3 separate regions of the Homo sapiens genome follow, and all the other regions are linked to region 1. Evidence: fine-mapped expression QTL. A gene starts in region 1. Each other region holds a variant in brackets. All regions are shown on one strand. Distances are between the middles of the regions. Region 1 holds the start of CCL28 (C-C motif chemokine ligand 28). Region 2 overlaps CCL28 (C-C motif chemokine ligand 28). Region 3 has its middle 120 kb from the start of NNT-AS1.

Region 1 (10,803 bases):
CATGAAGCTACCAGTGACTTTCTTCACAGAATTGGAAAAATCTACTTTAAACTTCATATGGAACCAAAAAGGAGCCCACGTTGCCAAGACAATCCTAAGCAAAACAGAACAAAGCTGGAGGCATCACACTACCTGACTTCAAACTATACTACAAGGCTACAGTAGCCAAAACAGCATGGTACTAGTACCAAAACAGAGATATAGGCCAATGGAACAGAACAGAGTCCTCGGAAATAATACCACACATCTACAACCATCTGATCTTTGACAAACCTGACAAAAATAAGAAATGGGGAAAGGATTCCCTATTTAATAAATGGTGCTGGGAAAACTGGCTAGCCATATGTAGAAAGCTGAAACTGGATCCCTTCCTTACACCTTATACAAAAATTAATTCAAGATGGATTAAAGACTTAAGTGTTAGACCAAAAACCATGAAAACCCTAGAAGAAAGCCTATGCAATACCATACATGCCATAGGCATGGGCAAGGACTTCATGACTAAAACACCAAAAGCAATGGCAACAATAGCCAAAATTGACAAATGGGATCTAATTAAACCAAAGAACTTGTGCACAGCAAAAGAAAATACCATCAGAGTGAACAGGCAACCTACAGAATGGGAGAAAAATTTTTACAATCTATCCATCTGACAAAGGGCTAATATCCAGAATCTACAAAGAACTTAAACAAATTTACAAGAAAAAATCAACCCCATCAAAAAGTGGGTGAAGGATATGAACAGACATTTCTGAAAAGAAGACATTTATGCAGCCAACAGACCATGAAAAAATGCTCATCATCACTGGCCATCAGAGAAATGCAAATCAAAACCACAATGAGATACCATCTCACACCAGTTAGAATGGCAATCATTCAAAAGTCAGGAAACAACAGGTGCTGGAGAGGATGTGGAGAAATAGGAACACTTTTACACTGTTAGTGGGACTCTAAACTAGTTCAACAATTGTGGAAGACAGTGTGGTGATTTCTCAAGGATCTAGAACTAGAAATACTATTTGACCAGCCATCCCATTACTGGGCATTTACCCAAAGGATTATAAATCATGCTGCTATAAAGACACATGCACATGTATGTTTATTGCAGCACTATTCACAATAGCAAAGACTTGGAACCAACCCACATGTCCATCAATGATAGACTGGATTAAGAAAATGTGGCACATATACACCATGGAATACTAGGCAGCCATAAAAAAGGATGAGTTCATGTCCTTTGTAGGGACATGGATGATGCTGGAAACCATCATTCTGAGCAAACTATTGCAAGGACAGAAAACCAAACACCGCATGTTCTCATTCATAGGTGGGAATTGAACAGTGAGAACACTTGGACCCAGGGTGGGGAACATCACACACCAGGGCCTGTCGTAAGGTGGGGGGAGCGGGGAGGGATAGCGTTAGGAGATATACTTATTGTAAATGATGAGTTAATGGGTGCAGCACACCTACATGGCACATGTATACATATGTAACAAACCTGCACATTGTGCACATGTACCCTAGACCTTTAAGTATAATAAAAAAAAATTGGTGTGGATGTATGTGTGGGTTCACATTGCTAAATGCATAGAGGAAATTCTGGAAGGATATGCAGAACCCTCTGGAGAGGGGAGAGGGATTAAAGGAATGATGAAGAGGGACTTTCCTTTTTTTAATTCTTTAAATTTTTATATTTGAAAATACACTAAGTATTTGTAACTTTCATAATATTAGGATAAATTCTTTAATTTTTGTGACATTTTTGGTAATTTTATTTTTTTGGTAATTTTTTACTTTTTTTTTTTTTTGAAATGAGAGTCTCACTCTTTCACCCAGGCTGAAGTGCAGTGGTGCGATCATGGCTCACTGCAGCCTCGAACTCCTGGGCTCAAGCAATCTTTCTGCCTCATTCTCCCAATTGCTGGGATTACAGGCAGCGAGGCCAAGGCAGGAGACTTGCTTGAGGCCAGGAGTTCAAGACCAGTCTGGGCAACATAGTGAGACTCTATCTCTACAAGAAAAATTTTTTTAATTAGCCAGGTGTGCCTGGGCATGGTGGCTCACACCTGTAATCTCAGCACTTTGTGAGGCCGAGGTGGGTGTATCACCTGAGGTCAGGAGTTTGAGACCAGCCTGGCCAACATGGTGAAACCCCGTCTCTACTAAAAATACAAAAATTAGCTGGGTGTGGTGGTGCACGCTTCTAATCCCAGCTACTCAGGAGGCTGAGGCAGGAGAATTGCTTGAACCCAGGAGGCGGAGGTTGCAGTGAGCCGAGATTGCACCATTGCACTCCAGCCTGGGCGACAAGAGCAACAAACTCCATCTCCAAAAACAAACAAACAAAAAATTAGCTAGGTGTGGTGGCATGCACCTGTAGTCCCACCTATGTCAGACCTCTTAGGGACCACAATTGGAGTCCCAATTGTGCAGAACAACATTGAGTCACAAATGTATATTCGTGGTAACCTTCCCTAGCCAGAGTCTTATGATTAAAACAAAAGGTAAACGTTTTAGGATGCAAGCAGCAAATCTCTAGCAAGTATTGGTGTGATTCAGTAGCCATTGTACTCTGAGAAAGAAGGTTGTCAGTGGGAAGGCAATTTGGGACTCACTGCAGCAAAACCTCCTAACTTGAATCTGCTGGGCACAAGTGAGCCTTAATCTTAATGTACAATAAAACAGCCAGGCCCACAAAGTCCTAGATTGTGGGTTTAAATAATCAGGCTCAGGGCCACCGAAACAGGATGATAGACATGTTTATGGATTCAGTATTGAGTTCTGGGAGCCAGCAGCCACGTCAGCAGAGGTGGAGTGTGCCCTACCTTTGGGCAGAATCCAAGGCTTTTAATTATAGATAAAGTCACCTGCTTCCTGATTTATGCAAAACACTTAGGGAATGCCAGTTATTGAGCCATCACAACAAGATAGCCATTTAAGACACCATTAAGATAAGGGAACAGCTTTCTGCCTCAAGGAAACAAAATATATTTCCCAAAGTTCCAAACTGGCACAGGCCTTTTTCCTATTCCCCTTGCCAAGGCCACCTGTCCTCTTCTCTGCACTGTTGAGTTGTTGAGTGTTCTCTACCTTCCTCCCTCCCCACTTGGTTTTCCACCCCCTCCCTGGAGCCAGAATCACTTAAGTGCCTCCCACAGGGCACCTGGCTTACATGGACACTTGAGTGGAAGTTTGTTAAGAATAGCTGTGGCGTTGCCCCTCTATTCCACGACTGTTCTCAGGCCTACTTGTGTATTTTTACCCAGTATCACTTATTTTTAAATGACAGAAGTTTGGAGCTTCTCAGGCAATGTGATTTTCCTGTGGCCTAAACTGCCTTAGGTAAAGCATCGAGACTAACCCAAAAGGCTATTGCTGGGTCTCTCGGCTCCCTTCCTTATTATCACCAGCAGCCGTACCTTTTCACACACCTCTGCATTTTGCCGTTCCACCCCACCGTCTCTACCAGGACTCAGTCCCATGTGAAGGTGGGTCCTGGGTATGGCAGAGCCTTCCTCATTACCCTCTGCCTCCTCGACCTGCTGTTCCCTCCCTCCTTTCCTGTAGGAGAGCTGCCGCTGTGGGGACAGGTGGGAGTAGGTCAGGAAGCTGGATGGAGGTACACATTTCAAAGTTTTATGTAAAAAATTTGAGTTGGTGGAATTACCAGAACTAGGAGTGAAGCCTTAGCAGGTAGGCCTTTCAGAAATAGTGAAAATGAGTCCCCAAATCTCAATGGTGAATTTTTCTGAGAAATGTTACAGAAACATAAAGTGACAAATTTTTGTCTTTATATTGATAAGATAGATAGATTAGTAGAAATTGAGAAGAGATTGTCCAGGTTTTTTCTGTTGCTTATTTGTATAAGCCCAGTACATTGACGGACTATATTGGGAGTCCCTAAGCAAATGCCTGCAGGGACCAGGCAGTTAATACAGCAAACTTCAGAGGCTCATCTGCTTTAGCCAGTTCTTGCCATGGTATGGTGGAATCATTGTTGCCACATCTGATTTCTCAAGAGAAGCTTTAAAATCCAATTTGTATGTGTGTATGTATGAGTATGTACATGAGAAAGCTTTCAGTTTTAAAATGTTGGCTCAGATTTTTAAAAAGCAGACCAAAGACTTATATTCCACCTCTGCTCTAGACTTAGAGAATCTGTTCAGGATAAAGCTTAAAGAAAAGATGACAATGGAAAAGAGTCATTGGTCAAGTATTAAGTACTGACACTTAGGGTTTCCTGAATATAGTAGTGAGTGCTACTTTAGAAGAGATTCCCTCTAGTTCAAATGCAGTTACAATCTCCAAATACATGCTAGCAACTCACGATTTAAATTCTCTTTGACATAATTTGTATGGTTCAATCTCCCTCATCCTGCTTTTCTTCTTTTTCTTTCTTTCCTTTCCTTTCTTCCTTTCCTTCTCTTTCCCCTCCCCTCCCCTCTTTTTGTTTTTAACAGATGGGGTTTTACTATGTTGCCCAAGCTGGAGTGCAGTGGCAATTCAGAGTGCAGTGGCAATTCACAGTGTGATCATAGCTCACTGCAATCTTGAATTCCTGGCCTGAAGCTATCCTCCAGCCGTAGCCTCCCAAGTAGGTGGGAATACAGGCATGCACCACTGTGCTCAGCTCTGCCCTCCCTTTTTAAAGGTCAGACTGAAGTTTCAGTTTTCTGTATCCATAGAGCTGACTTTGCTCAGGAAATTTACAACTTACCTAATTTGAACGCAGCTGGCCAAGTCTGTATTTCCCTCCAGGAATGTGCACAGTTGTGTTCAGACCGTTTAGCAGGTTGGGGTGTGGAGGAAGACAGATGAATAGTAGGGGCTTTACTCCAGCCTCTAGCTGGGGATTTTCTAAGATACTGTCTTCAGAAAAGGAAACATAGCTCGAAGTTGTACCTACATGGAAGGACCTCATCCTCCAGGTGGCAAAAATTTGTAGTATGCCTGTTAGAATGAGGTTCCTTCCTGAAACTTCTGGGAGATCTAGAATTTAAAGCTATGTCATTCTCTTGTAGGTAATCAGAAATCAATTGGAAATTCCTGCTTGAAGAGATAGATATTCTTGCCCCACCTCAATCCTTCCAGCACAGATTTGGGAGATACCCCCCTTTCCAGTGAAGGCCTAAGTGTCCAGTGCCCCCACTCACCTTCTGAGGCATGTAGGGCCGCACAGACAGCCAAGGCCACGATGGCGAGTCCTCTCTGCTGCATTCCTGCCTGCCCTACTGGCACTGACAGCAACACAAGTGAGGCTGTTCGATCAGGAAATGAGGCTAAAGGTGTCCTTGGGCACAGAGAAAGTGCAGAGGAAAAGTAAGCCAGGTGGCCCCGCCCTGGGAGGTGTTCAGGGTATCTATTTCTCATGTTTCTTTCCTTAAGACCAGGCTCCTCCTCGACTTATTAAGCTCCTAACTTGTGTTCATCCTGCCTGGGGGTCAGGGGATGTCAATGGAGATCTGGCAGCTGGCAGGGTCACTGTGAGGTGGGGTGTGCATCAGAATCATTTGGGGAACATTAAAAAAAATCAATCTAAATGACTCTCCCCTTTCCCTGATTTGTAAACCAGAACTCCCAGGTAGGAGACCAGTCATTTGAATTTTGTAAAAGCTCTATAGGTGATTCTGATGGACACTTATGTTGAGACCCATTGCATAATCAGTTTTTAAGTAGCTTATGGAAACCATGAGTTTCTGGGGACAAGGGTGACAAGTCATAAAAAATGTATCTTTGTGGAAAGATATGGAAGTATTAAACCCCACTTTAGTCTTGGTTCACAGCCAAATTGTTTCCAGTGAAGCTTTTTACAATAGCTTATTTAGGAGAAAGACAGGAAGGGGGGCAATGCCTTGTAGAAAAGAGCCCAAGAGCAGGTGTGAAGAGGCATGAGCGCTAGTGCAGCTTTGCTGCCAATCAGCTTTGTGAATAAAAGCATGGGGTAGCATGAAGATAATTGGATTCTAATTGTTCCTCATCTACTAATAAGTTGTATAACCTCAGGCAACGTACTTAACTTTGCTGTAAATAACAAGTCAGACTAGATGACCTCCAAAGTCATGCCATGCTTCCTCTAGAACTGTGTTGTCCTATGTGGTAGCCGCTAGCCCACATGTGGCTCTTGAGCACTTGAAATATGAGTAGTCCAAACTCAGATGTACTATGGGTATAAAATTCACACTGGATTTCAAAGACTGGGTACAGAAAAAAATATAAAATATCTTGTTAATAATGTTTATACTGTTTATTGATTACATGATAGTATTTTGGACTTTTTGGGTTAAATAAAATATATTATTAAAATTAATTTCACCCATTTCTTTTTATGTTTTCAAATTACTGCTGTGGTTTGAATATTTTTTTCTTCTCCAAAGCTCATGTTGAAAATTAATCCCTAATAGTGCTGGGAGATAGGGCCTAATGGACAATGTTTAGGTTATGATGGCTCCACCCTCATGAATGGATGAATGCTACTATAAAAAGGGCTTGTGGGAATGGGTTGGTACCTTCTGCTCTTCTGCCAGGTGAGTACACAATGCTCCTTCTCTCCAAAAGATGCAGCAAAGTGGCATCATCTTGGAAATAGAAACTGAAATCACTGGAGCCTTGATCTTGGACTTCCCAGCCTCCATAATTGTAAGAGAATACATTTCTGTTATTTATAAATTGCTCAGTCTCGGGTTGTGGTGTTATGATATATATATTGGCTTTTATCCATGGTTCCTGGCTTATAACTCCCATAACCCTTGTTACAGTTTTTTTTTGTTGTTTGTTTGTTTGTTTTTTTTTTGAGACAGAGTCTCGCTTTGTTGCCCAGGCTGGAGTGAGTTTCACCATCTTGGCAAGATGCTGGTCTTGAACTCCTGACCTTGTGATCCACCCGCCTTGGCCTCCCAAAGTGCTGGGATTACAGACATGAGCCACTGTGCCCAGCCCAGTCTTTTTTTTATATTATAATGTTGGGGCACTTTAGGCTTCAGGAACAGGCCTCAGGAAACGGAATCTCTCTCTGACCTTCTGTTTTTCTTTCACCTGCCCAAGGCAGGACTCTAATCTGATTGTGGGTCATAAGATCCTCATTCCAGAAAGGGTTCTGTCCCATACTCTAGAGGAAGGAATGCTACACAGGCCAAGAAAAGCCTGAACAGGCAGGACTTGCTGGGTTTAGATTATGTGCTTTTTGTCTAATCACATTTCTACATGGTTGTTAATCATGCCTATGTAATGAAGCCTTTGTAAAACCCCAAAAGGGCAGAGTTTGGAGAGCTTCTGGATAGCTGAACATGTGGAGGTTCTTAGAGGGTGGCGTGCCCAGGGAAGGCATGGAAGCTCTGCATCCCTTCCCCCATACCTTGGCCTCAAGCGATCCTCCTGCCTTGGCCTCCCAAAGTGCTGGGATTACGGGCATGAGCCACTATGTCTGGCCTTCATCTGTATCTTCTGTACTGTCTCTTATAATAAACCGTTAAATGTAAGTATTTCCCTGAGTTCTGTGAGCCACTCCAGTGTTGCAGGAAGTCAGGAACCCCGAATGGAGGGACCAACCGGCTGAAGCCATGGCAGAAGAACATAAATTGTGAAGATTTCATGGACATTTATTAGTTCCCCAAATTAATACTTTTATAATTTCTTACGCCTGTCTTTACTGCAATCTCTGAACATAAATTGTGAAGATTTCATGGACCCTTATCACTTCCCCAATCAATATCCTTGTGATTTCCTATGCCTGTCTTTAATCTCTTAATCCCATCATCTTCATAAGCTGAGGAGGATATATGTCACCTCAGGACCCTGTGATGATTGCGTTAACTGCACAAATTGTTTGTAGAGTATGTGTGTTTGAACGATATGAAATCTGGGCACCTGGAAAAAAGAACAGGATAACAGCAATGTTCAGGGAACAAGAGAGATAACCTTAAACTCTGACTGCCGGTGAGCCGGGCGGAACAGAGCCATATTTCTCTTCTTTCAAAAGCAAATGGGAGAAATATCGCTGAATTATTTTTCTCAGCAAGGAACATCCCTGAGAAAGAGAATGTGTCAGTGAGGGTAGGCCTCTGAAATGGCCACTTCAGGGGGTGGCCATCTTTTATGGTCGAAGCTGTAGGGATGAAATAAGCCCCAGTCTCCCATAGTGCTCCCAGGCTTATTAGGATGAGGAAATTCCTGCCTAATAAATTTTGGTCAGACTGGTTGTCTGCTCTCAAACCCTGTCTCCTGATAAGATGCTATCAATGACAATGCATGCCCAAAACTTCATTAGCAATTTTAATTTTGCCCCGGTCCTGTGATCCTGTGATCTTGCCCTGCCTCCATTTGTCTTGTGATATTCTATTACCTTATGAAGCACGTGATCTCTGTGACCAACACCCTATTCATACACTCCCTCCCCTTTTGAAAATCACCAATAAAAACTTGCTGGTTTTACGGCTCAGGGGGCATCACAGAACCTGCCAACATGTGATGTCTCCCCTGGACACCCAGCTTCAAAATTTCTCTCTTTTGTACTCTGTCCCTTTATTTCTCAGACTGGCCAACACTTAGGGAATATAGAAAAGAACCTACGTGAAATATTGGGGGTGAATTTCGCCCGATATCTGGCTGAATTTCCCCCATACTCCAGCCAATTAATCAAACCCATAGAGAGGTTGTGGGAACCCCAACTTGGAGCCAGCTGTTCAGAAGTTCTGGAGGTCTGGACTTGTGACTGGTGGGAAGTAGGGGGTGATCTCATGGGACTGAGCCCTCAACCTCTGGTTCTGGCACTATCTCTTGGTAGATAGTGTCAGAACTGAATTGGAGGACACCTAGCTGGTGTCCGCTGCTTGGTGTATGCACCAATTTACCCCCTACATATTTGGTTATAGAAGTCTTCTGTGTTGATGATTTTTGTGGTATGAGAGCAGAGGAAAAACAGTTCGAGAGTTTTTTTCCTCAAACAGAGATATTCTGTTATAGCAGCATAAAACAGACTAAAACAATTACATATGTAATTGAAACCCAGAATATTTCAAATCACATGGGTAGATCACATATTTGCATTGGGTGTTGCTGCTTTTGAAGATCAAGAGCAGGTGTCCAAATTTACCCCAGCTATCAAGTTACATTTAACCAAGCTCCAATTCACTATCAAGAACCAGAGTTATAATAAGGAATGGGAGCTTTGGAGAGCAACAGACTTGCAAAGATAGTGACCTCTTGAATGAGAAGACCCACAGCAGCATTCCAGCCTTTCCACTAAGCAAAGGGACCTTACCACAGGTCTTGATAAAGGAGGACAGAGAACCAACCTGTGGAGGTGACAAAGACCTGTGAAATTACACACACCAGCCATAACCACAGGAGCCCCTCTGGACCAAAGCCGTGTGCTCTGAAGATAAGAGTCAGGAGGCTGGGTGTGGTGACTCATATCTGTAATCCCAACACTATGGGAGACCAAGGTGGAAGGATTGCTTGAGCCCAGGAGTTTGAGACCAGCTTGACCAACATAGCAACACCTCAGCTATACTAAAAATTTTTTTAAAAATTAGCCAGGCACTGGCATGCGCCTGTAGTCTCAGTTACTTGAGAGGCTGAGGTGGGAGGATCTCTTGAGCACAGGAGGTTGAGGCTATAGTGAGCTATGATCATGCCACTGTATAACACAGTTATTAGGGCACTGACAAGAAAGGCTGGACTGAATTTGAATGAGCCTGCAATTAGGCCCCCTGTATTCACTCGTGTACTTTTATTTGCTTTTGTATTTGACAAGACAGCTTCTCTTTCACTGTGTGCATATTTCTTCTGCTAGGAAATGTCACCTTGCCCCTGCCAGCAGGAAGACATAGGGACAGAATCCAGGGACTTGGAAAACAAAGGGACTCCTCCTTGGGTTGTTAGCACTCTCCCTTTCATCCACACTTTCCTGGGGGCACTGGAACAGGTTCGTGGGTTGGGTAGTGGTTACTAGAAGACAGCTGCTATAACATGTAGAACCAAAACTATTGAAGCACTCATGAAATTACCACCACTGGAATTACAGCCTTATGGGAGGGTATTATGTTACCCTGGTGCTAAAAAGCAAGCCTGACATCTGCCAACAGGAACCTGTAAACCACTAAAAACCCTATGCCATGTCATTTTTTTTTACTAAGTTTTTGTACTAAGACATGAATAAGAGGAACGCTGGGCACATCAGTTTTGTTTGGAGTGAGAGAAAAACTGAACCATGGGATTTTTGTCTGCAGAGAACACAGGACAGTTTATGATTATGGGGCATGTGTGTCTGTGTTTGAGAGGGATGCTAACTAGGCAGAAATGGACCACCGATAAACTAGGAAGGAGCCCCAAAGGGGTGGATTCAGATGAATAACTTTGATTACCTAAGTATTTTTCTCTGTGCACAGGGACTCTGCAAAAGAAAATGAGGAGACAGAAATGTGTGCCGTTAGGGCCCAGAGGATAGTTGAGCCATAGAATGAAACAGTTGAGGACCTAAAACTATGTCTGGTTTTGTGTTTTCCATTTATGAAATGGTCCTGGCTAAGAATATCTAGATGTAACCTTCCAGGAAAAAAACAAAAAAAATTACCAGGAAGAACCACATAGTTTTTACTTTAAAAAGAAGTAAATTGTAAATCTCAAATGATCATAAAAATACCTGCTGCCATCTCTGCACTGGGCAAAATGACCTGCTTGGATTAGAAGGATGATTTCCAAACAGTAACTTTCGCAAAATAAAATTAAGCCACTGAAGCTTTCTTGAATATTTGTCTTGGAAAATTAGTATATGGATGGAATATATATATATATGTGTGTATC
Region 2 (10,803 bases), 29 kb before region 1:
GTAATCCTAGCACTTTGGGAGGGTGAGATGGGAGGATCGCTTAAGCCCAGGAGTTCAAGACCAGCCTGGGCAACATAGTGAGACCCTGTCTCTACAGAAAATAATAATTTTTTAAAAATAGCCAGACATGGTGGCACATGCCTGTAGTCCCAGTTACTAGGGAGGCTGAGGTAAAAGGATTGCTTGAGCTCAAGAGGTCAAGATTGCAATAAGCCCAGATTGCTCCACTGCACTCCAGCCTGGGCAACAGAGCAAGACCCTGTCTCAAAAAAAAGGATTACAAGATGTTGCCTCAAGGATAGGTCTAGGAGTAGGGAGGATAGGGTGGGAGGATGTTATTTTTATTATAAATTCTGCTGTACTTTTGATTTTTTAAATCGCACACCTATATTACTTCAATAAAAATGTAACTTTTCAAAAAGAAAACTTAAAGGATTAACGAGGTGATTTACTCATAATACAGTAACTCATGATATAGTAACAGTATTTACTCTTAGTACAATAATAGTACATAGTACAGTAACAGTGATACAATAATGTTTTACTAAGCACATGCAATAACCTGTAAAATGTAATTTCTTTAAGAATCTGGTTTTGGCCGGGCGCGGTGGCTCACGCCTGTTATCCCAGTACTTTGGGAGGCCGAGGTGGGTGGATCACAAGGTCAGGAGATTGAGACCATCCTGGCCAACATGGTGAAACCCTGTCTCTACTAAAATACAAAAAAATAGCCAGATGTGGTGGTTCGCACCTGTAGTCCCAGCTACTTGGGAGGCTGAGGCAAGGGAATTGCTTGAACCCAGGAGGCAGAGATTGCAGTGAGCCGAGATTGCACCACTGCACTCCAGCCTGGTGACAGAGCAAGACTCCATCTCAAAAAAATAAAAATAAAAATAAAAATAAAAAAAATCTGGTTTCCCAGGCACACTATCTTCAGACAAAGTTCAATTATTTGCGTGGCAGAAAAATCAGTTTTTAAAATATATCATGTAAACCTACTGTCATTCATAGCTGCCCAACAATTGTGTAGAATTGCAGATCGATCTAGTAAGAAGAAATAAAATGGAAAATAATTCAAGTTGTTAGTTGAAAGAATTAGACACCAGTGTTTTGGTATCTTAACTTTTATTAATGTTGGTTATCACGGTTAATTAATTTAAAATGGAAAATAATTCAAGTTGTTAGTTGAAAGAATTAGACACCAGTGTTTTGGTATCTTAACTTTTATTAATGTTGGTTATCACGGTTAATTAATTTAAAATTGTGGTTTATTAATATTTTAAGTTACTCTCATATTATATTTTATTAATTTTTTCTTATTTAAAAAGCTTGTCTCTGCCACTTCCTGTGTGACCTGGGCAAGTCATTTTACCTCTAAGAGCCTCAAATTTCCTCATCTATAAAGTGGAAATATAAATACAAAGCTTGCAGAAATGTCAGGAAAATAAATAAATTAAATGCTAAATAGTCAATGAGGGATATTAGGCAAAGGCCAGTTTTGGTGGCATTTTAACCTATGGAGACTCAGTGCCTCTGTGTGTCCCATTATCACCTCCAAGACATCCTGGCAACACCACCGCTTGGGACTAGCCAGCAGGGAGGCCCAGGACACCTGCCACCTGATAAAGTGGCTCCTGCTCTCTATTGGCTTCTTATGAACACTACTGGGCTCTTACCTATCTATCTTGAAGCCTCTATGGACAAAAAAGAGGCCAAAAGAGGAATGGCACAATGGTATCAACTCAAACGTGTGAGCCCGGCATGGTGGCTCACGCTGGTAATTCCAGCACTTTGGGAGGCACAGGCGGGTGGTTCACTTGAGGTCAAGAGTTTGAGACCAGCCCGGCCAACGTGGGAAAACCCCGTCTCTACTAAAAATACAAAAATCAGCGGGGTGTGGTGGCTGGGCGCCTGTAATATCAGTTACTTGGGAGGCTGAGGCAAGAGAATCACTTGAACGCGGGAGGCGGAGGTTGCAATGAGCCGAGATTGTGCCACTGCACTCCAGCCTGGGCAACAGAGTGAGACTCTGTCTCAAAAAAAAACAACCAAACAACAACAAAAACGTGTGAGAAGGGTGGAATAGGAGCTAAAAGATGTAGGCTCCTTGTTTAGGCAGAGCGTAAAATCACCACACAGAAGGCCGAACTCTGGGCCCCTAACTAGTGCTGCTCCAAGAACTGACTGGGGGAGGCAAAAGGTTCTGGGCAGAAAGGCAGGCTTTTTGTTCTTTTCAGTATCAGAAAATTTCAATCCAAACAACGGTAGCTACTCAAACTAGACGTTTTGAAGTTATATTTAGTTTAAACTATTCTATTTAGAAAATAAACCCTAATATTTATGAACTCTAAATGACAAAATAAGTACACGAATTCACGTAGGAAATTCTTAACCAAAAACATTAAACCTGAATTTGATCACAAGAAAATAATTAGGCCAGGCACTGTGGCTCACACCTATAATCCCAGTACTTTGGGAGGCTAAGGTGGGAGGATCGCTTGAGCCCAGGAGTTTGAGATCAACCTGGGCAACATAGTGAGACCCTGTCTCTACAAAAAATAAACAAAATTAGCCAGGTGTGGTGGGTATGCACCTTGATCCCAGATACTCGGGAGGCTGAGGTGGGAGGATTGCTTGAGCCCTAGAAGTTGAGGCTTCAGTGAGCCAAAATCAAAATTGTGCCACTGCACTCCAGCCTGGAAGACACAGCAAGACCCTCCCTCAACAAAATAATTTTAAAAATTAAAAAAAAAAGACAGAGGAACTTTCTTAGATTGAAAGATATTAAAGAAAAATAACAATTATTTGCAATATGTATGTCAACCTTGATTGATTACTGGAGTGAAAAAAAAACTACATAAAATGCTCTCTAAATAGTTGGGAAAATTTGAATATGGAATATATTAGATGAAATTATTAATTTTTTAGGTATAAAACTGATAAGGTGATTATGTAGAAAAATGTCTTTATTTTAGGGTATGTCAAGTTATAACACCAAAAAGAAACTAGGGGTGAAGTGTCATGATTTTTGCAACTTATTTTCAAATGGTTTAGCAAAACAAGATATATTTTAAAAGTTATAATATTTTATATAGAAACACATACAAAGAGAGGAGAGAGAAAGCAAATGTGACACAATATTAACAATGATTAATATTGTGGTGAAAGATATATAGATGTTCATTGTACCATTCTTTTAACTTCTCTGTAAGTTTGGAAAACTATAATTAAAAAGTTGGGAGAAGTTATATCTATATGCTCCTCTTAAAATATTATATGAAGATATACACTATCATTATTATTATTATTTTTAGAGACAGGGTCTCATTCTGTCACCCAGGCTGCTCACTGCAACCTCAAACTCTCCCAGACTCAAGTGATCCTCCCACCTCAGCCTCCCATGTGGCTGGGATTATAGGCAAGTACTACCATGCCGGGCCAATTTTTTTTTTGTTTGTAGAAATGAGGTCTTGCTATGTTGCCCAGGCTGGTCTCAAACTCCTGGTCTCAAGTGATCCTCCTGCCTCAGCCTCCCGAAGTGCTGGGATAAAAGGTGTGAACCACCATACCCAGCCAGTATTATCTTTTCATTTCATTTTCCAGTTGAGTATATTATTGGCTACATTTGCATACCGCACAATTGTTCATTTTTTAAAAACCAATATTTTGTTTTGTTCTGTTGTCTACAATAAGGAGAATTCAGATGATAAACTTACAACCAATCATGGCCAAGTCCACTTGAGGAATTGTCTCTGTAGATTTATCTGTAGACTCTCTAATAAGGAGTTTTATGGCCGTATGTTTCGTGTTTCCCCTGATGTGCCCTGTTACTGTTCCTCTTGCCATGGTGTTTCTTCCTGTGGCAAACATTTCCTTTACCATTTTTCTTGGCAGCTTGCACTTTCATCCACTGCTTAACAGTATGGTTGTGCGGGCTGACACAGATTCTTCTGCGCTTGACATGAAGGCTGTTAGAAAAGGAAGCAAAAGAAAGTCACTGATATAAAACATATATAAATAATCACTTAGTGACTTACATGCAGCTCCCACTTTGGGACACTGTATTCCTAGAGACTAAATTCAGACTAAATTTCTGAATTAAGTGTAGAAATGAAGTGAATTCTAAAGCTGAGCACCACAAGGTTCAATTTTGACTTTACAAACACTGCTGCCTGTGGGTCCTCAGATATCATCAGAGAGTATTAAAAGAAAGAGAAGGAGAAGAAGGAATTGGATGAGGAAGAGAAGAAGGAGAAAAGGAGGGAGAAAAAAGAGGAAGAAGAAAAGGAGGAAAAGAGACAATAATAAAAACCAAGTGAACCCAACAAAACCAATTCATCCTCACAGCCCATCTCAAACACATCCTTAAGGTTTGTTTGAGATTTTTCTGATCCGTAAGGATTTGTAGATTCTCTCAGCTAGATGCCGTCTTTTTTCCCCTCTGATTCTCCACGGTGAGAGTTATCTCTTTTCTGGCACTTACTTTATTCTGTCTTTTATCTGAGTACTTGTCTCATCTTTCCTACTGGAGTTATGCTCCTTGAAGGAGGAATAGTCTAGAAGTGTCTTGAAAACGCCTTATTCAAAACTGAAACTAATTTAAAACTTAAACTTAATTTAAAACTTAAATTAACAAAACAAAACTAAGATATTCTAGGCATTTGTTAACAT[T/C]TTAATATGATATAGATCTATGCCACAGTTCAGAATGTGCTTTCATTTTCATTTTTCTTTTCTTTTTTTTTGTTTTTGGTGAGATGGAGTTTTGCTCTTGTCACCCAGGCTGGAGTGCAATGGCATGATCTCGGCTCACTGCAACTTCCGTCTCCCGGGTTCAAGTGATTCTTCTGCCTCAGCCTCCCGAGTAGCTGGGATTACAGGTGTGCACCACCACACCTGGCTAATTTTTGTATTATTAGTAGAGATGGGGTTTTACCATGTTGGCCAGGCTGGTCTTGAACTACTGAACTCAGGTGATCCACTCGCCTCAGCCCCCGAAGTGCTGGAATTACAGACATGAGCCACTGCACCTGGCTCATTTTCATTTTTCTATATGAAGTTTTCACAGTGGGCTGGGAGAATGCTACAGCATGCACAGTTTCTGGTAACTAGAATAATTTTTTTTGTTGAAAAAGATATTGGTGACTTCTAATTTCCTCATGAGGGGTCATCAGCTCTTACCAAATGTCACAAATCCTGCTGGCTCTACATATATAGTATTTCCGTATCCAGATAAATTGAAACTTCTGACCCTGTTATTCAGGGAAAAAACAGAGGTGGGGTAGAGAATAAGCTGCTATTTTTCTAGATGACGCAAGTTGAATCTTTTTCAGCTAATGTAGGGACTACTGAAATGGGAGAAAAGTGGGGAGAATCGGGGGAAAGTTACAAATGAGCTTTAACATAATAAAGCCAGCATATGGGGAATATTAATTTGAAAGAAGTGGAGCATCTTAATAAGAGAATAATATATTCCCTATGTGTATTAGATAGAGAGTCTTAAAAAAAAACAAACAGCCTAATTCTCACTATGGTCAGTTGGTTTGCTATCATAGGAGAAAACGTGGCTGTAGCACTGTTGCGTAGGAAACAAAAACAAACAAACAAACAAACAAACAAAAATCTGGCACTGAAGCTCCTACCCTTTCCAGAGGACTAAAACTCTTGCCTCTCCCTGTGATGTCAGAAAGAAACTGAGCAGATAAAGATTTTAGTGACATGCAGGCTGGGCACGGTAGCTCACGCCTATAATCCCAACACTTTAGGAGGCCGAGGCAGGAAGATCACCTGAGGTCGGGTGATCGAGACCAGCCTGGCCAACGTGGTGAACCCCTGTCTCTACTACTAAAAATACAAAAATTAGCTGGGCATGGTGGCACGCACCTGTAATCCCAGCTACTTGGAAGGCTGAGGTAGGAGAATCGTTTGAACCAGGTAGGTGGAGGTTGTAGTGAGCTGAGATCATGTCACTGCACTCCAGCCTGGACAACAAGAGGGAAACTCCGTCTCAAAAAGAAAAAAAAGAGAAGATTTCTGTGACATGCAGATAAGCCCATAAGTTACACAGGAAAGACCTACGATTCAAGTCCATTATAAAAATAAGAGAGATGGGATTCAGGGAGGGGCATTGGCACCGGGGCTGAAGGAGAGAACCAGATGGAAGAGATATAGACAGAGGATTCAGAAAGGTGGAGGACCATAGGAAAACAGGCAACAACTAGCATGTGGGCTTTTTCAAAGACTTGCTGGTGAGGCAACCTCTCAATGTAATTCAACTGGGGAAAAAAATCAGCTACCAGAATACAGCTCCCAAATCTGAGATCCCATGATGTTTTAGAATCCTAAAGTTTAAAAACTTCTTAAATCTCTACTTGGATCCCATGTATTTTCCACCAGGATAGAAAGAGATGAAGTAATGTTGGAAACGGGGCTGGCCTATTCCACATTCCTTCCCCTACTCGCAATTCCATAGTATTCTGATGGGCACCAATCCCCACCTTCCCAACGGTGAGTTTGTAGGTGGAGAGTTTTGACTGTAAGAAATCCTGAGGCCAATCCCCCTTTTTTTTTTTCTTAACCCTCAGGAGGATAGCTGGAGATAGTCTGATGGACGTAAAGGGGTGGCCCTGCCATAGAGATTATACCTTTAATATCCCTTAAACTTTATTTCTTTACCCATTCCTCTAAACACAACAACGCCTCACAACCACATCTGAAAAACTACTCAAGCCTTCCAGATAATTCTATTTAAAAACCTCAAATTTTCTCACAACAAAAAATGTCTGTTTGATTCAAGAATCCTCAGGCCTCTGCCCAACATAAACAACTTTTTTTTTTTTTTTTGAGACGGAGTCACCCAGGCTGGAGTGCAGTGGCGCGACCTTGGCTCACTGCAGGCTCCGCCTCCCGGGTTCACGCCATTCTCCTGCCTCAGCCTCCCGAGTAGCTGGGACTACAGGTGCCTGCCACCATGCCCGGCTAATTTTTTTGTATTTTTAGTAGAGACAAGGTTTCACCGTGTTAGCCAGGATGGTCTCGATCTTCTGACCTCGTGATCCGCCTGCCTCGGCCTCCCAAAGTGCTGGGATTACAGGCGTGAGCCACCGCGCCCGGCCATGATAAACAACCTGTTATTGTATTTATGTTCAGAAACATTCAGAAGCTCATTAATGAAGTCACTGTAGAGGAGTTTGAACAAGAAAACTGCTGTCTCAGGCATCAAAAACTACAATGACCATTTATAAGGTATAAAACATAGGACCTATTTCTAGGCAGAAAAGAAAGAAGCCTAGTAAGTTTACCGTACGTTGACTTATATTAATTAATTGTTATTAGTAATACATGCTACTTGGGAATTACATTTCCAGTGTTAGCAATGCTTTCTGCATCTTAAACACTTTCTCAAATCTTAAAGTCTTTATACCCAGTCAGGGATAAGGGACTACATTTTAGATAAGTAAAGACATGCTCCATACTAAACTAATCTGAAAACAAGAGAATCTTTATCTATTCTTGTTGAACATCAGGAAACACAACAGACAGGATCTGTAATTTATGGTTAAAAAAATACTACAGAATTAAATTTAATTTTATTTGAGATTAGGTCATAACAACTCTGTATTTTTCAGCTTTCTTAGCACAGAGAGGTCAATTTACAAATTGTGCTTGAATAAAGTAAATATTTTTAGATCCAACTGATTGGCTTCCTAGTTCCTCTTTAATTAAAATTGAGTCCTTTTTAAAATGAAGACTTATGTTTCTGATTATATTTTCCCTTATCACAGCAAAACATCATTTCTGTTCCTATGCCTTTCAGATCTCTGACACCTGCTTATCCCAAAGAAACATCCCTGAAAATCCTGTTACCAATACCTTCCCTGGATAACCTCCAGAATCTCTTATACACCCACAGAAACTTCCTCTGTTTTTTTTCTCCAAGCCTTTCTGGGAGTCCTATTGGAGCCCTTACAAGCTTCAAGCTTCAAGTCTGAGGTGATATGTGCCAATAAGGTGGAAGGAATTGAGAGGAGTTGAAAATTTGGAGTTTCTCAGAGCAACTGGAGCAGGTTCAGACAGATTTAGTGCAGCTGTGTCCACTTGACACAAATATCCAGCTGTTTCTAACTACCTAGAGCATTGTCTATCCACGCATTGTCTATGAATTTTTTACTTTCCAACTATTACCAACAATATTCTTTAAGATTAAATAAAAGACTGGTAGAATCTTGGCCAGACATGTACCAAGGAATTTTTCAAAGAAGTTGGGAACTTGGAGCACCCCTCAGAATCCTCATTGGTATGTAGCCCCTGGAGTGCCACAGATGATGCTGGTTCCCAATGACTAAACCACCTGAGCCAATGGAGCCACGTGGTGGCTTGAACTGAGGAGATGCTGAGAAAATTCTCAGGCTTCTCCCTTCTCCCACAAAGACACTCATGCTTAATACAAGTTTGAATCAAGAATTGTTTCCTCCCCTACATCTGACCCTGAGTGTGACCTTTAAACTTTATTTGATCTCAGAAACTTTGAGAATCTTATAAAACCTATGGACCCTCTAAAAATGCTCACAGGTTCATACACAAAAATTTCAGGAAGTTCACAGCCCCTAACCTGATGAAAGTCTATCAACAGACATCTTACAAACTCTTCCTCTGAACTTTTAAGAACGCTTATCTTGGAGCAGTTTTTCCTCAAAATTGAATAATGGATAAATCCCTCTGAAAGGGGGGAAAATATATTTCAAATTCCAGAGATCATCTCAAATCATTAAGATGATCTGCAGAACCCAGCTGGATAAAGAGTCCCCTTGAGACTCTAGGCAGACAGAACCCATTTTGTCACCACTGCATCCCCAGCATATAGAACAGTGCTTGGTGCATAATTGTTAATTCATAAATATTTGTTGAATTCACTGAAAGAATAAGGTTTCTGAGTGACTCAGGAGCTCAGGCATAAGCAATGGGTTTATTTATAGCCCAAAGAAAGGAGCACCAAATGACTCACTAGCATCACCTGGAGCCACAAATGGTGTTAAAACCAGCATGCCAGGGAGATGCCTGATACTCGGATGCAGTAGAGTTTGGAGAGGGTATTTTATGGTTAGTCCCACCACTGCTTTAGAATGACATTGGAGGTGTACAAGTGTTCTGAACTAAGAGACCTGGGTTCACATCCTGTTTCTGCAATTCACGAGCTGTACACAAGTGAACCGTGTAACCTGAGTCACAGCTTTCTCCTGTGTATGATTGGGAGATCATTTATGCTTTCCTCACAGCATTGTTGTCAGAATCCAGATTTACTAAATACCAATGCAGTTCAGATGTTAGAGCCTCCATAGAAATGTTAAGTACATATACAAACAAAGCTTTTAATAACTGAGCCAGGGGCAGGGGTGGGAGGCTTCACTGTGAACCAACACCACAGAATCAAAAGCAGAGATTGGATTGGCATTTCTGATTGGATTGCATATAGCACTGTGACAGGTATAGATATTTCCACGCTTCTTTTTGAACCTTTTCTTTTGTTTTTCTTTGCCTTTTTGTTGTTGTGGTGGTGGTGGTTTTTTGAGACGGGATTTAACTCTGTCACCCAGGTTGGAGTGCACTGGCATGAGCACGGCTCACTGCAGCCTCGAACTGGGCTCAACGATCCTCCCATCACAGCCTCCCAAGTAGCTGGGACTACAGGTGCATGCCACCATGCCTGGCTAGTTTTAAAGTTTTTTGTAGAGATGGGGTCTCACCATGTTGCCCAGGCTGGTCTTGAACACCTGGGCTCAAGCGATACCCCTGCCTTGGCCTCCCAAAGTGCTGGGATTACAGGCATAAACCACCACACCCAGCCTAACTTTTTGAACTTTATAATATGCTCCTGATGAATTCATAAAGTAGAAATGACAGCAACCCATATACTAAAAAAGGTTAAAAGCCATGAAATATAACAGAGTTATCTTTTGTTTGGGGTTTTGTTTTGCTTGGGAAAGTCATGAACACTTTTTGGTGACTGGGGGAATTTAGTCCTAACCACAGCACTACAGGGTGGAAGTAGATGGTGTGCTGGTATGGGGCTCAGGACATCTTTGGACAGAGAGACTATGAATTTACTCCAGGGAGCCTGGGGCCTAATGGACAGAATATTTACTCTTCCCTCCCTTGTTTGGATGATTGTTTGTATGTTGTAATCAAGCAAAGCCTTTCCAACCTATTATTCGTTGGGCAGGGAAATAATCACTGTGCAGGTTTAGACCTCCCGGCTGATGAGCACTCACATGACAGCAGCCAAGTCACAATCCCCATCAGCTCTCTGGATGCGACACATATTCACTCTTTCCAGGAGCCTTCTGGAAATATGATGTGAAACCTCCGTGCAACAGCTGGAGGCAATGGGAAGTATGGCTAAAAGAAGAAAAGAAAGAAAATGTTAAATTTTACGGTTTATAGAACACTGGCATGGTTCTCATTTTAAAGATTTCAGAGAAACAATGTTAATCCACACAAACAAGGGGCAAACATGGCTTTGTGAATACAGACTTGGGGCAGGACATGTTCCCACTTTCTGGAATTTAAGCTATATTTGTGAAAGAGAAAATGTAAATTTAGGCAAAGACACAAAACAAGTGAAAGAGATGAAAAGAGTTACAGACAAGGATTCTGGTGGTACTGCAGACTGATCAAAGATGAAAGGAGTGAGGTCAACACGGTGTTTCATGCATTTTGGAACTGGAAAAGCATCATTCGTTCAGCAAACATTTATTGATTGCCCATTCTGTGACAGGCCCTGAGCTCTGCATTCAAAGTTGAAATAAG
Region 3 (10,803 bases), 310 kb after region 1:
TCTCTCGGCAGAAACCCTACAAGCCAGAAGAGAGTGGAGGCCAATATTCAACATTCTTAAAGAAAAGAATTTTCAACCCAGAATTTCATATGCAGCCAAACTAAGCTTCATAAGTGAAGGAGAAATAAAATACTTTATAGACAAGCAAATGCTGAGAGATTTTGTCACCACCAGGCCTGCCTTACAAGAGCTCCTGAAGGAAGCGCTAAACATGGAAAGGAACAACCGGTACCAGCCACTGCAAAATCATGCCAAAATGTAAAGACCATCGAGACTAGGAAGAAACTGCATCAATTAACCAGCAAAAGAACCAGCTAACATCATAATGACAGGATCAAATTCACACATAACAATATTAACATTAAATGTAAATGGACTAAATGCTCAATTAAAAGACACAGACTGGCAAATTGGATAAAGAGTCAAGACCCATCAGTGTGCTGTATTCAGGAAACCCATCTCACAGGCAGAGACACACATAGGCTCAAAATAAAAGGATGGAGGAAGATCTACCAAGCAAATGGAAAACAAAAAAAGGCAGGGGTTGCAATCCTAGTCTCTGATAAAACAGACTTTAAACCAACAAAGATCAAAAGAGACAAAGAAGGCCATTACATAATGATAAAGGGATCAATTCAACAAGAAGAGCTAACTATCCTAAATATATATGCACCCAATACAGGAGCACCCAGATTCATAAAGCAAGTCCTGAGTGACCTACAAAGAGACTTAGACTCCCACACATTAATAATGGGAGACTTTAACACCCCACTGTCAACATTAGACAGATCAACGAGACAGAAAGTCAAGAAGGATACCCAGGAATTGTACTCAGCTCTGCACCAAGCAGACCTAATAGACATCTACAGAACTCTCCACCCCAAATCAACAGAATATACATTTTTTTCAGCACCACACCACACCTATTCCAAAATTGACCACATACTTGGAAGTAAAGCTCTCCTCAGCAAATGTAAAAGAACAGAGATTATAACAAACTATCTCTCAGACCACAGTGCAATCAAACTAGAACTCAGGATTAAGAATCTCACTCAAAACCGCTCAACTACATGGAAACTGAACAACCTGCTCCTGAATGACTACTGGGTACATAACGAAATGAAGGCAGAAATAAAGATGTTCTTTGAAACCAATGAGAACAAAGACACAACATACCAGAATCTCTGGGACGCATTCAAAGCAGTGTGTAGAGGGAAATTGATAGCACTAAATGCCCACAAGAGAAAGCAGGAAAGATCCAAAATTGACACCCTAACATCACAATTAAAAGAACTAGAAAAGCAAGAGCAGACACATTCAAAAGCTAGGAGAAGGCAAGAAATAACTAAAATCAGAGCAGAATTGAAGGAAATAGAGAAACAAAAAACCCTTCAAAAAATTAATGAATCCAGAAGCTGTTTTTTTTTGAAAAGATCAACAAAATCGATAGACCACTAGCAAGACTAATAAAGAAGAAAAGAAGAATCAAATAGACGCAATAAAAAATGATAAAGGGGTATCACCACCGATCCCACAGAAATACAAACTATCATCAGAGAATACTACAAACACCTCTACGCAAATAAACTAGAACATCTAGAAGAAATGGATAAATTCCTCGACACATACACTCTCCCAAGACTAAACCAGGAAGAAGTTGAGTCTCTGAATAGACCAATAACAGGATCTGAAATTGAGGCAATAATCAATAGCTTACCAACCAAAAAGAGTCCAGGACCAGATGGATTCACAGCCGAATTCTACCAGAGTACAAGGAGGAGCTGGTACCATTCCTTCTGAAACTATTCCAATCAATAGAAAAAGAGGGAATCCTCCCTAACTCATTTTATGAGGCCAGCATCATTCTGATACCAAAGCCGTGCAGAGACACAACCAAAAAAGAGAATTTTAGACCAATATCCTTGATGAACATTGATGCAAAAATCCTCAATAAAATACTGGCAAACCGAATCCAGCAGCACATCAAAAAGCTTATCCACCATGATCAAGTGGGCTTCATCCCTGGGATGCAAGGCTGGTTCAATATATGCAAATCAATAAATGTAATCCAGCATATAAACAGAACCAAAGACAAAAACCACATGATTATCTCAATAGATGCAGAAAAAGCCTTTGACAAAATTCATCAACCCTTCATGCTAAAAACTCTCAATAAATTAGGTATTGATGGGACGTATTTCAAAATAATAAGAGCTATCTATGACAAACCCACAGCCAATATCATACTGAATGGGCAAAAACTGGAAGCATTCCCTTTGAAAACTGGCACAAGACAGGGATGCCCTCTCTCACCACTCCTATTCAACATAGTGTTGGAAGTTCTGACCAGGGCAATTCGGCAGGAGAAGGAAATAAAGGGTATTCAATTAGGAAAAGAGGAAGTCAAATTGTCCCTGTTTGCAGATGACATGATTGTTTATCTAGAAAACCCCATTGTCTCAGCCCAAAATCTCCTTAAGCTGATAAGCAATTTCAGCAAAGTCTCAGGATACAAAATCAATGTACAAAAATCACAAGCATTCTTATACACCAAGAACAGACAAACAGAGAGCCAAATCATGAGTGAACTCCCATTCACAATTGCTTCAAAGAGAATAAAATACCTAGGAATCCAACTTACAAGGGATGTGAAGGACCTCCTCAAGGAGAACTACAAACCACTCCTCAAGGAAATAAAGGAGGACACAAACAAATGGAAGAACATTCCATGCTCATGGGTAGGAAGAATCAATATTGTGAAAATGGCCATACTGCCCAAGGTAATTTATAGATTCAATGCCATCCCCATCAAGCTACCAATGACTTTCTTCACAGAATTGGAAACAACTACTTTAAAGTTCGTATGGAACCAAAAAAGAGCCCGCATTGCCAAGTCAATCCTAAGCCAAAAGAACAAAGCTGGAGGCATCATGCTACCTGACTTCAAACTATACTACAAGGCTACAGTAACCAAAACAGCATGGTACTGGTACCAAAACAGAGATATAGATCAATGGAACAGAACAGAGCCCTCAGAAATAATGCCACATATCTACAACCATCTGATCTTTGACAAACCTGAGAAAAACAAGCAATGGGGAAAGGATTCCCTATTTAATAAATGGTGCTGGGAAAACTGGCTAGCCATATGTAGAAAGCTGAAACTGGATCCCTTCCTTACACCTTATGCAAAAATCAATTCAAGATGGATTAAAGACTTACATGTTAGACCTAAAACCATAAAAACCCTAGAGGAAAACCTAGGCATTACCATTCAGGACATAGGCATGGGAAGGACTTCATGTCTACAACACCAAAAGCAATGGCAACAGAAGACAAAATTGACAAATGGGATCTAATTAAACTAAAGAGCTTCTGCACAGCAAAAGAAACTACCATCAGAGTGAACAGGCAACCTACAAAATGGGAGAAAATTTTTGCAACCTACTCATCTGACAAAGGGCTAATATCCAGAATCTACAATGAACTCAAACAAATTTACAAGAGAAAAACAAACAACCCCATCAAAAAGTGGGTGAAGGACATCAACAGACACTTCTCAAAAGAAGACATTTATGCAGCCAAAAAACACATGAAAAAATGCTCATCATCACTGGCCATCAGAGAAATGCAAATCAAAACCACAATGAGATACCATCTCACACCAGTTAGAATGGCAATCATTCAAAAGTCAGGAAACAACAGGTGCTGGAGAGGATGTGGAGAAATAGGAACACTTTTACACTGTTGGTGGGACTGTAAACTAGTTCAACCATTGTGGAAGTCAGTGTGGCGATTCCTCAGGGATCTAGAACTAGAAATGCCATTTGACCCAGCCATCCCATTACTGGGTATATACCCAAAGGACTATAAATCATGTTGCTATAAAGACACATGCACACGTATGTTTATTGTGGCATTATTCACAATAGCAAAGACTTGGAACCAACCCAAATGTCCAACAATGATAGACTGGATTAAGAAGATGTGGCACATATACACCATGGAATACTATGCAGCCATAAAAAATGATGAGTTCACGTCCTTTGCAGGGACATGGATGAAATTGGAAATCATCATTCTCAGTAAACTATCACAAGAACAAAAAACCAAACACCGCATATTCTCACTGATAGGTGGGAATTGAACAATGAGATCACATGGACACAGGAAGGGGAATATCACACTCTGGGGACTGTTATGGGGTGGGGGCAGGGGGAAGGGATAGCATTGGGAGATATACCTAATGCTCGATGACGAGTTAATGGGTGCAGCGCACCAGCATGGCACATGTATACATATGTAACTAACCTGCACAATGTGCACATGTTCCCTAAAACTTAAAGTATAATTAAAAAAAAATAAATTAAAAAAAAGTTATGTTTACACTAAACTATAGTCAACTAAGTGTGTAATAGCATTATGTCTTTAAAAATGTACATACCTTAATTAAAAATACTTAAATTGCTACAAAATGCAATTATCAGAGCCATAAATGAGTCATATATATATATAGTTTTTTGCTGGTGGAGGGTCTTGCCTTGATGTTAATGGCTCCTGACTGGTCAGGGTAGTGGTGGCTGAAGATTGAGGTGATTGTGACAATTTCTTAAAATAAGACAACAATGAAGTTTGCTGCATTGATGGACTCTTCCTTTTATGAAAGATTTCCCTGTAGTATGTGACGCTGTGTAATAGCATTTTACTCTCATAGAACCTCTTTTCAAATTGGTGTCTGAAACCCTGCTCTTTCTTCATCAACGAAGTTTACTCTAAATCCTTTGTTGTCATTTCAACAGTGTTTACAACATCTTCACCAGGAGTAGATTCCATCTCACTTTCTTTGCTCATCCATAAGAAGCAACTCCTTATATGTTAAAGTTTGATCATGATACTGCAGCAATTCAGTCTCATCTTCAGGCTCCACTTCTAACTCTAGTTCTCTTGCTATTTCCATCACATCTGCAGTTACTTCCTCCATTCTGCCTTGAACCCCTCAAAGTCATCCTTTAGGGTTATAATCAACTTCTTCCAAACTCCTGTTAATATTGATATTTTGACCTCTTCTCATGAATCATGAATGTCCTTAATGGTATCTAGAATGGTGAATCCTTCCCAGAAGCTTTTCAATTGACTTTGCCCAGATCCATCAGAGAAATTACTATCTATGGTAGCTATGGTCTTACAAAATGTGTTTCTTAAATAATAAGATTTGGAAGTCAAAATTACTTCCTGACTCATGGGCTGCAGAATGACTCTTGTGTTAGCAGGCATGAAATAACATTAATCTGCTTGCACATCTCCAGCAGAGCCCTTGGATAAGTAGGTGCATTGTCAATAAGCAGTAATAGTTTGAAAGAAATCTATTTTTCTGAGCAGTAGTTTTCAACAGTGGGCTTAAAATATTCAGTAAACCATGCTGTAAACAGACGCACTGTCATCCAGGTTCTGCGGTTTCATTTCTAGAGCACAGGAAGAGTAGGTTTAGCATAATTCTTAAGGGCTCTAGAATTTTCAGAATGGTAAATGAGCATTGGCATAAACTTTAAGTCACCACCTGCATTAGCCTCTCACAAGAGAGTCAGCCTGTCCTTTGACGCTTTGAAACCAGATATTGATTTCTCCTCTCTAGTTACAAAATTCCTGGATGTCATCTTCTTCCAGTAGAAGGCTGTTGCATTTATATTGAAAATCTTTTGTTTAGCGCGATCACCTCCTTCAATTATCTTAGCTAAATCTTCTGGATAACTTGCTGCACTTTCTACAACAGCACTTGATGCTTTACCTTGCACTTTTATGTTACAGAGATGGCTTCTTTCCTTAAACTTCATGAGCCAATCTCTGCTAGCTTTCTACTTTTCTTCTGTAGCTGCTTCCTCACCTCTCTCAGCCTTCAGAGAATTGAAGAGAGTTAAGCCTTGCTCTGGATTAGGTTTGGCTTAATGAAAGGTTGTGGCTGGTTTGATCGTCTCTCCAGGCCACTCAAGTTTTCTCCATATCAGCCATAAGCCTGTTTCACTTTCTTATCATTCACGTGTTCACTGGAGTAGCACTTTTAATTTTTTTCAAGAACTTTTCCTTTGCATTTACAACTTGGTTAACTGGCACAAAAAGCATAGCTTTCAGCCTGTCTTGGCCTTCAAGATGCCTTCCTCACTTAGCTTAATCATTTCTATCTCTTTACTTAATGTGAGAGATGTGCAACTCTTCCTTTTACTTGAAAACTTAAGAGGCCATTATAGGGTTATTAATTGTCCTAATTTTAATATTATTGTGTCTTAGGTAATAGGGAGGGCCTGAGGAGAAGGCGAGAGATTGGGGAATGGCTGGTTGATGGAGCAGTCAGAACACACACAACATTTATCAATCCCAAAACGATTACAATAGTAACATTAAAATCACTGATCACAGATCACCATAACAAATATAAAAATAATATAAAAGTCTGAAATATTATGTGAATTACCAAAATGTGACACAAAGACACAAAGTGAGCACATGCTGTTGGAAAAATGATGCTGACAGACTTGCTGAATGCAGGGTTGCTACAAACTTTCAATTTGTAAAAAAGCACAATATCTGCAAAATGCCTTAAAGCACAATAAAATGACTTATGCCTGTTTATCATCAGTTTCCTGGTGACATGGTATTTCTCTCCTGTTTTTTTCCCATAGCCACGGCCCTATTATGCTCCTGTTCCTCTTTCTATAAGGATGCTAATTACAATAGCTAACATTTGTTTAACACTGATTAAGTACCAACCACTGTCCTAAAGACTTTCAATATACTAACTTATTAATTACAGCAGAACAATCCTTTGAGTAGCTATCCCATTTTATAGATGTGGAAGCTCAGGGCCCAATTAATTAAGTAGGTGGTGGCATCAGGATTTGAATCTGGGCTGTCTGGCTCCACTCTGAACCACAACACTTTGCTGTCATAGAACTGATTTGCCAACTAACATTTAGAAAACAACTTCTTAGTAAGTTGAAACTATTTGTAATTTTTGAACTCTTTGTGATACTAAACAAAGAAGCAAAGAAATATAGTAATTGTACCAATTTGACATTTGCTTAACTTCATGCATGTGTTTGGTAGAGTCAATTTTTCAGAAAGATTTTTTCACCCTTTACAAATACAGAATCAGTTGTTTTGGTGTGGTGCCATGAGAAGGATCATGTGCTTCACTCCCAGGGTCTGTAGTACTCCTTTTTATGGGCAGGCTGCTCTTGAGTAGTTTTCCCTGTCTTTCTTCCCTCTCTTTTCCTTTCTCTCTCTCCC[T/C]CTCTCTCTCTCTTCTTCTCCCTCTCTTTTTCATGGTATAGCTGTAGTCCTCATTATCTACCTAAGCATACATATCCACATAACAAGCTACAAATTATTCAACTAGAAAACCATATTGTGGTTCGGTGTTAACTATTACTCTTTCCTTATTCAAAAATTATGAAGCTTGTAGTCTAGCCTGGTTTGGGCAGAATTTCTGTCCTCCTTTTACTTCTAGTGCTCCTCTTTTTATTGTCTGGGTTCTTCATCATCTTCTGACTCTTTTCTCTGTTCCATTCTGGCCCATGTTTCCTATACAGGTTGTTTCTTTATGGTAGAGCTGATAGGCAGAAAATTTTCTGTCTGCTGTTGCTCACAGTTTAGATTCCTCTTTTCTTTTTACTACTCCAATAATTCTGCTAAACCATATTCTAGTTCCTTTGTATCACCCAGAGTTGGTCTTTCTGATATGCTTATCTTAAAAAAAATTAAAATAAAATATAAAAATTACTGATTATTAGAGACAGCACAGCTGAAGCTGGATAATAATCTAGGAATACTAAGCATGTAGTTTTTGAATTTTAATTGTTTTACTCTAAATTGCATAAAATTTCAAAGTTTTTTTAAAAAAACAAGAGTACTTAACATTAATCTAATATTAGCTTATCTTCTCTATCTAAAAGTTATTTTCTTCCCTTTACCAATCAAAGCCCTCTAATGGGTACTTTTGCTCACATTCTGTTTGCTCCTTAAAAATTTTTTTTTTGGTCCCTACCTTAATTATTTAACTGAAATCACTTTGGAAAGTAAACAATAACCTCATCACCAAATACATATCTCAAATGCATTTTCTTGCACATTTCTGTAACATTTGACACCACTGACAGACTATTCTGGGCATCTCCTCTCTAAGCTACTAATTCTTTAATTAATACAGTCTATGATAACATGAACTCTTTTGACACTTCTTTTTCTTACAATGAACTTAACTAAAACCCTTCATCTTTTTCTACACATGCTGCTGATGTGAATCCATTTCTCTCCCATTTACACATGTAGTTTTTTTTTTTTTTTAACTTGACTCATTTGAGCCCATTTTCTATCCTCTGAGATCAGGTTTCTGATTCTGTTTCATCCAATGTGTTGACTGTTCCTTCTAATTTTGTGTCACCTGCAAATACAGCATCAATTTTCTCACTGGATTCACTGAGGGAAAAAAGATGTCATCATTTTGTAGGGCTTAGGCTAAAACTGGGCAACATGCATTCCAAGCTCTTCTCCAAGGCTGACTCTGATCTGTTAATCTGGGTACTTTAGGTAGAAACAACTGTGTATATTGAACTCATATTTCTTCACTTTTTGTCCAGAAAAATATCTTAGAAGCTTTGTCAAATATCTTCTAAAAGCACACAAAAATAAGAAACTGACTAACGTAATAAATACACAAACCCAGAAATGAGTTAGTTCTGGTAGGACTTGTTTTCTATGAACTAATTCTGATCCATACTCAACATGGTTCCCTTTAAAAATTCTCATAGTCTAAGATTTTAATAATTTGTTCTGGAATGTAGCTGAAGATGATTAACAGTCCAGTCCATCATTTGCACTATCCACTTCTTGCCATTTTTGGTCAGGAATATATTTGTAACACTTGTAACACTTTTCTAGTTTGTCTTGATTCTTTAAAGATGGCTGACTACAGATTCCGTCAGCTCAAAGCATGCTCTGGAATTATGCTTGGAAATAGCATGTGAAAGTTTCATTTGAACGCAATTTAGAGGAGTTATGAGGTCCTTTGTAAGGGTCTTTTTTCCATCTAAGTTTCACTCTCTTTTACAGGAAACAGAGGAAAATGGGATTTGAGATCAACTTTCTCTCTGCTACTTACTATGACATCATCTACCATACTCCAAAGATGTGCACATCTCCTGCTCTCATTTTTCGCTAAATATGATTTTAAGGGCGAAGTTTATTGTTTTTTTCCACAGCCTTGAGCTCCCTTTGTGCTTTTGCTTTTTTTGACATTATTCTTAAGCCTCTTTGCCACTTTTTTATATGGTTCTTGGTTATTAATCCTTTTGTCATCATTGTTCACTTCATCTTAAGGTTTGAGATACTAGAAATGCTGCACACTGTCTCTCTTGCATAAAACATATCTATAGACATCAAGTAAGTTTTTTTTTAAAATTAGAGTAAAAACCTAAAAACATCTTCAATGCAATTTGAATGCAGAATTCTTTTAGTTTTTATGATTTTCCTCAAATCTTTTATAGTTGTTTCACTCCAACCTGATTTGACAATAGTACTTAAACTTATATTTTATTGGTTGATGTATTATTTAATTAAATTGTGTAATTAATATTGTGTGACTGCAAGTAAATCTTGCATGAACATGTTTGGAAACAAAACCCAGTTGCCTCTTGTTAAGCATACAATTAGCTGGTAGCAACAGAAGTCCACGAGCATTTTAGAGTAGCCTACTAGCCCAAAGCATTCAGTATACAGTGGGAATTAATCAATATATTTTACAGATGCAATGAAGAGCTTCAGTTAATGTAGTGAGTTGGTTAAGTGGAGGCTGGCTAAAAGAGTTTCTGCTGTATAATAAGATGTGCTTCTTGATCTACAATAAATTGCAAAATAGTAGCCAATTCTATCTGAATTGATTAATTCTACTATACACTATACACTATCATAATACCTGTAATACTTTATTTCCCTAACATCTAAATCTACTAAACTGTGAACTTCTTGAGGGCAAGTGTTGTCCTCAATAGATGGTTTGGTGAATATATTTTTAAAAACATAGCACGAGAAATGAAAAGGAAAAGGGAGAGAGCAAAGGGTGGGCTGATACAGAACAATAAATTTCAAAAACAATTCTGCAATATTGGTACCATAAAATTTATCACTTAAATGCTATCTGATAACTCATAGTCCCTGGTAGTGGGAAGGCCAATAGGGGTTGGAAATAGAAAGCAAGCTAGTTCTCAATATCTGCAAATTCAAAACAATAACAACTTTTGAATGCAAATTTTAGCCCTGTCTATAACGTTTCATTGAACACATCTCATTCTGTTTTAGAACAATGAAAAAATGGTATTGTATTGGGCTTTGTTAATACAAAGTAAATAGTGATTCCCATGAGAAACTATTCTGTAATTATTCTGTTTTTTCACTAGATGGTGCTTGTGAGCCAATGAGAAGAAAAATATTTGAGTTTATGGTTTATTCACTTAAGGGGAAATGAGAAATTTGTGAATTAAATAGAAAAAGACAATGAAAAATTAGAACACTTTAAGACAGACCTTTATAGTTAAGTTAAACTACTTGGAGAAAACCTCATATTACTTTCTGGTAACAATGTTAAACTCTTGGAAGAAAAAAATACTCATTCTCATTAAGACGATTACAATCACCAAATTCTGAAAGTTTTGTGGGCTGACTGTACAATCCTAATGAATTAAAAGATTTTCTTTACTCTCCTTAAAATACAACATTACCTTTGGTTGGGGGCAAAATCATTTAAATTGTTACCATGAT

The links. PIP is the estimated chance that this variant, and not a neighbour inherited with it, causes the effect. A credible set is the group of variants that fine-mapping cannot tell apart.
Region 2: its variant is the best candidate, but not a certain one, in a credible set for the expression of CCL28 in whole blood (TOPMed, PIP 0.72).
Region 3: its variant is the best candidate, but not a certain one, in a credible set for the expression of CCL28 in whole blood (TOPMed, PIP 0.50).

The regions. Positions count from the first base shown.
Region 1 is chr5:43,407,097-43,417,899 of GRCh38, forward strand. CCL28 (C-C motif chemokine ligand 28) reads right to left here and starts at 5,295. Exons shown (of 3, transcript NM_148672.3): 1 at 5,157-5,295. The coding sequence starts at 5,220.
Region 2 is chr5:43,378,085-43,388,887 of GRCh38, forward strand. CCL28 (C-C motif chemokine ligand 28) reads right to left here. Exons shown (of 3, transcript NM_148672.3): 2 at 10,266-10,392; 3 at 1,109-3,968. The coding sequence ends at 3,776. Among named protein-coding and RNA genes, the nearest start is that of CCL28, 29 kb to the right of the region's middle. RefSeq lists an enhancer at 8,895-8,964. The variant T/C (reference allele first, on the strand shown) is at 4,672.
Region 3 is chr5:43,719,613-43,730,415 of GRCh38, forward strand. No RefSeq gene overlaps it. Among named protein-coding and RNA genes, the nearest start is that of NNT-AS1, 120 kb to the left of the region's middle. The variant T/C (reference allele first, on the strand shown) is at 7,282.